Regions from separate parts of the Homo sapiens genome. Here region 1 is linked to region 2. Evidence: fine-mapped expression QTL. Tissue or cell type: tibial artery. Region 2 holds a variant in brackets; the other region holds the start of a gene. All regions are shown on one strand. Distances are between the middles of the regions.

What was found. PIP is the estimated chance that this variant, and not a neighbour inherited with it, causes the effect.
Region 1: CCNB2 starts here. The variant in region 2 is fine-mapped to the expression of CCNB2 in tibial artery (GTEx, PIP above 0.99).

What each region holds. Positions count from the first base shown.
Region 1 is chr15:59,103,733-59,106,644 of GRCh38, forward strand. It overlaps CCNB2 (cyclin B2), which reads left to right and starts at 1,414. Exons shown (of 9, transcript NM_004701.4): 1 at 1,414-1,560. The coding sequence starts at 1,537. RefSeq lists an enhancer at 937-1,226.
Region 2 is chr15:59,135,270-59,138,181 of GRCh38, forward strand. It overlaps MYO1E (myosin IE), which reads right to left. Exons shown (of 28, transcript NM_004998.4): 28 at 1-2,187. The coding sequence ends at 2,111. Among named protein-coding and RNA genes, the nearest start is that of CCNB2, 32 kb to the left of the region's middle. The variant C/G (reference allele first, on the strand shown) is at 1,190.

The DNA of each region.
Region 1 (2,912 bases), 32 kb before region 2:
CCTTTTCCCCACATCCACGCCTACACTGTTTTTTGACTATTGTTTTTTGAGGTTTTTTTTCTTTTTTAGACAGGGTTTCAATGTGTTGCCCAGGCTGGAGTACTGTGGCACAATCATGGCTCACTGCAGCCTCAGACTCATGGGATCAAGGGATCCTCCTGCCCCAACACACGGCCCCCCGCCCCCCGCCCCCCGCCCCCCTCCCAGTACCTGGGACTACAGGTGCTCACCACTACACCCGGCTAATATTTGTATTTTTGTAGAGACGGGGTTTTGCCATGTTGCCCAGGCTGGTCTTGAACACCTGGGCTCAAATGATCTGCCCAACAGGCCTCCCAAAGTGCTGGGATTACAGGTGTGAGCCACTGCGCCCGGCCTTTTTTTCTGACTTTTTAATGATGGCCATTCTTGCAGGAGTAAGGTGGTATCTCCTTGTGGTATTAACTTGCATTTCTTCGATGATCAGTGATGTTGAGCATTTTTTCATGTATTTGTTGGCCATTTGAATATCTTTTGAGAAATATCTATTCATGTCCTTTGCCCATTTTTTGATGGCATTATTTTCTTTCTTGCTGATTTGAGTTCCTTCTAGATTCTGGACACTAGGCCTTTTTCCGATGCATAGTTTGCAAATATTTTCTCTTAATCTGTGGTTGTCTATTATTTCTTTTGATGTGCAGAAGCTTTTTAGTTTAATTAGGTCCCATTTATGTATTTTTGTTTTTGTTGCATTTGCTTTTGGGGTCTTAGACATGAATTCTTTGCTTGGGCTGATTATTAGACGAACATTTATTGAGCACCAACCATATACGACAAACGATGTACTAGGTGTTGGGAATACAATGGAGAACTTACATGAATCACCAGTCACACAAATCTCTTTTATCTTTTTTTTTTTTTTTTTGCCTTACTTGAGAATTTGGGTTTTTGAGTAAACGCCATTATTCTCTCTTTTTTTAAGCACACTTTTGCATCTCAACCACCTAACACACTGCATCCCTGAGCAACCCGGAGGGGCCGGTTCCTGCACCCAGGCCAACACAACTTAAACCCCAACACACCAGAAGAGGAATAAAGGCCAACCAACTTCCGCCCACCCACTACAAACGTCGAGAGAAATTCGTAGATGAGGCCTTGTCAAAATTCAGAGGCGTCCTACGTCTGCTTTCCCAATGAGACAGTTCCTTTTTGTTTGTCTCAGAGACTGGGGTTTTTTTTTTTTTAAAAGACTGTAGGCAGAAAAAACACCCCAACCGGCTGTTGTGACAATCAAACGTGTCTAAGAAAATTCAGCCAATGAGAGTGCGAGAGTGCATCTTGTGTTGGCCAATGAGAACAGCGACCCGTGCGCAGGGCCGCCCAATGGGGCGCAAGCGACGCGGTATTTGAATCCTGGAACAAGGCTACAGCGTCGAAGATCCCCAGCGCTGCGGGCTCGGAGAGCAGTCCTAACGGCGCCTCGTACGCTAGTGTCCTCCCTTTTCAGTCCGCGTCCCTCCCTGGGCCGGGCTGGCACTCTTGCCTTCCCCGTCCCTCATGGCGCTGCTCCGACGCCCGACGGTGAGTGTGCCCGGGGACCGCTCTCAGAGGCGAGTCCGTCGGCCCCACAGCTCCCCTGTCGCTTCTCTCATCTGCTCCGAGCTTCTCCGTCCCAACCGGGGCTGCTTTTCTCTTCTCCGGAGCTCACTGCTTCGCCCGCGTCCCTGGCCCTGCGGCCGGTCCTCTCCGGCCCGCCTTTCCCCGTCTGGATTCCGCCCTCCCCTAACCCCTCCCTGCCCCGGGGTGGGAGAAGTGTAGGAAAGCGCTTCCGAGATGGCGCCTGTCAAGTGAGCCCCCAGAGCACTAGGCCTAGTACTCAGCGAGCGATCCCCGAGTGCTCTTCATTGCTAGAGAGTTATCTACTTCCACGTTCCTGGGATTTCCCTCCCCCTTTCTTACAACTCCTTGCCAACTAAGGGACCTGTGATGGCGGCTGGGAGGAGGACTGGAAGGGTTCTGTAGGCAGTAAAGTGTACGGCGTGTTTCATCAGGCAACTGCCAGGCTGTTTTTCAGATTGTTCACATTTCTTTTTGTATGAGTTTCCCATTTATTTCGGCACGCTAAGTCTTCCATGCTACGTTCACTAATAAATGGGTTTGTCCCCTTAAAAAATTAATTTCTTTACTCAAATGTAACAGAGGTTTTTGAATATAATTTGGACCAATGTGGCAGACTGAGAGAAAAGGGTCCAAATTCATTTATTTCATCCTTGCAGAGATCAAAGTGTTATGGTGTTTTGGGTATTTTTCCTGTGGGCTTGAATTGTACCGGGACCTACTTTTTTCCTTTGCCGAAAGCTAGAGGGCCCTGACACACCTGAGTTCCATCATCTTGGCTATAAGGTTAGATAAAAGCTGCCAATTTTCCTATCCAGATGAATTTAAATTGAGTCACATTACCAGGCTTCTACCCATAAGCATTACATTTTCAAACACTTTTTCAGATTGGCAGTTGCTGCTGGAAGAAATTGAAGTGTGACTTTTGAGAATCCTAATAGATTGAATACATTTAGCATTTAATTAATATCCTTTTGTGGATCTAAGTCCAACTGACAAGTAATTTTTTATAATAATGTATTCTATAACGTTATTTAATAGTCAAAACCTTTCTGTTCAGGGAAGGCTTGAGTTTCCCTGGCCCCTCTCTCTGCCTGGTAGATCCACTCAAACCCCTTGTTGGGAGTTTTATTAGAGTCGGGACCCTGAACTCTCAGGGATAGGACATGCTGGTTTTTTGCTTTTTTCTTTTTTAATGAAATGTTTATCACTTCTATAATAAACTTTTTTTGGTATGAGTTGCTTTTCCTAGCAAGTTTTATTTCCAAGCACATTATGTCTAAAGCAGGTTAAGGTCAACTGACAATTTTTATTTC
Region 2 (2,912 bases):
TCCCAGTTACACACAAGTGTAAAATGCCAATCAATCAATCAGGAGGAAAAACAAAGGCTTGTCCCAGCCAGCCAGGGGCTTATGATAACAAGGGAAGATGGTCCTGGTGTTCCTGCCCTGAGAACGCAGCCTGAGTGCTGGTGGCTGTGGGGACTCCAGCATGCTCCTCTGTCCCAGTTCTGGTGGTATCTTCCTCCCACTGCGGGGAGTCCATGAATGTGAAAGTACTTTAGAGACCACTAGTGTCAACAGGATTACCTTTCCTCAACTCACCGCATCATGGCTCTACTTTCCTCTCTGGTCGCAACATGGAACTGAAGTAGCCTTTTAACATTATTCGTTACTGTTACAGAATGGAGTTTGCTCCCTGTTCTTGAAGTAAAACACAGCAGAATTAAATGTATCTTCGTTTCAAATCTAGATCAATTTTTTTCCCTTATACGTAAGCCCTGATAATTTTTTCCCATGGACTTGAGGATCCTGAAAGCCTCAAAGGTGTATGCTGCTCAAACTCTAAGTTACCAGTAGCTTAAGAATGGCTATGGCACCCAGAGGAGGAAAGGTAGAGAAATGGCAGTCTCTACTTACAACCATTCCATTATTGATGGGCATTACACTGATTCCAGCTTTTCACTATTATGGCAAGAAAACATTGTTTTAGTTTGTTAGGGCTGCCGTAACAAACTACCACAAACCGAGTGGCTTAAACAGCGAAATGTATTGCCTCACAGTTCTGGAGGTTGGAAGTCCAAGACCAAGGTGGGCAGGGCTGGTTCCTTGTGAGGGTGTGAGGGAGAATCTGTTCCAGGCCTCTGTCCAGGGCTTGTGAATGGCTGTCTTCTCCCTGCCTTTTCACATGGTCTTTCCTCTGGCATGTTGGTCTCTGTGTCCAAATTTCCCCTTTTCATCAGGACACCATTATATTGGATTAAGACCCACTCTAATGACTTCATTTTAATTAGTTTTGTTTGTTTGCTCCATAAAGACTCTATTTCCAAATAAGGTCATATTGTGAGGTACTGGTGGCTGGGACTCCAACATCTTCTTTGGAGGCACACAATTCAACCCATAACAAATGTCATAAAAGAAGAAGGTGTTCGCCGATTCCTTTATTTATTTAGGAGGTGGGGGCAGGACGCGGAGTAAGTTTCCTATAGGGAAAGAGTTGAGAAGAGTCTGCAGGGACTGA[C/G]CTAGAAAGCAGTGACACTCCGTAGTTGGAAAAAAGCAGAGCACATCTTTAAGTACCTGGTGTGAGTTTTGTAAGAAAACCTACCTTATGAATGAGTACAGTGGAATACTACTTAGTACATTCATACATGTTTCTACCATCTCAAGATTTTTATATATACAGTATATGATCTGTTTTTATAAATGTACAGCTTGAAAAAAGATCCTTCTTGTAGTAAGTACAGCATTTAAACACAAACCAATATGGGCCAGCCACATTCTAATTGAAGACCCAGAGAAAGCAAAGCCAGCAGCCCAGCCCCCAGCCCCCAGCCCCTGACCTGCTTGGCGGCCCTGATGGTCCCGGCAAAGTGTAAACCAGTGCCCCTCTGTCGCCCTGGGCTCAGCAGGCCAGCTTACCCTTGGCACGTACATGGGAAGTGCCTGCTCACGCTAAGCCCAGTCTGCAGAGGGCGGGTCCTCCCTGAAGGAAGGTGGCAGAGAGGAATGTGTCTATCAGGTATGGACAAGAGAGATGAAAGAAATGTGCTCTTCAACTAAAGGCACTTGTCAGCGGCCACCTACAGCCATTCTCTAGGCCTGGTGAGCAAGCAGGGTGCTGTTTTGATAGAAGCCTACAAGGTCTGAGCAGACCTCACTTGTCCTCTCACCAGGTTTAAATACAATAAATAAATCTTAATGCATGGTGGTTTTGTCCTCCTGGGTTCCTATGAAGAGGCTACCTTTTAGGATCACTTATGGAGTGATACTCCCTGTCCCCAACCCAGCCTTTTCAGTGTCCTCCATGGGGAAGGTACCAGAATAGCTCCAGGCCTTGGAGAAGCAATTGCTCATTGTGGATTGTAAGGGGAGCCCCTAAATATCCCCTCCCCTGGTCTGTGCCTGGAGCTCCTCTGCCCCATGTGTCAGAGTCACGGGCACCTCAGATCTTGGTCACATAGTTGTTGGGGAACAGGCCCTGCTTGCCTCGTAGTCGACCCGTCCACCAGCCAGAAGGATCTGCAGGGAGAGAGAGGTGGTGGAAGTGAAGATGAGAAAGTCTGTTCTGCCCCAGCCACACACACTCCGCTCCCATGGGCTCAAGTGATTTGGCTCCATCCATGTTGTTTTCCCTTTGTTCTTTAAATCAAAAAGTTTGTTGAAAAAAGTAAGATATCTACCAAATTAATAAAGCACTCAGCCAAGCCCATGGACTGCTTTAATAATGGATATTCAAGGTTGTCTTCCTGGCTTCCACTCCATCCACTTTCATTATGAAGAAGCCAGGAAGTGTGGGTGGGACAGACCTCCCCGTTTCTGGGGACAGCCCCTACCAGGTCTCATCCTCTCAGGGTACAGCCTTTGTCTTGCTACTGAAGTTGGTTCAGGGATGGACACATGGCTAATTTGGTCTGATCAGAATAAAAGTCAGGACTTTTGTCCAATGACTAAGAACAGAAGTTTCAGAGATGATGCACATTTCAGACATGGTTTGATATGTTGGCCTGGAATTGCTGCTGCCGTTTTGCTACCATGAAGAAAAACAGCTTGACAAGGGAGGGAATATAAATAAGGGGGCAGAGCTGAAAGAAGCATTAAAAAAGCTGGTGTCTTGATCAGACTGAGCCTGAGGCCTGACCTGCCTCTACAAATTGCAGTTTGAGGAGCCCATAAATTCTTTTCATTTTCACACTAGATCTTACAGCAATGTGACTGCATGCTCTTTGGGAGGCTGTCCCAGCCAA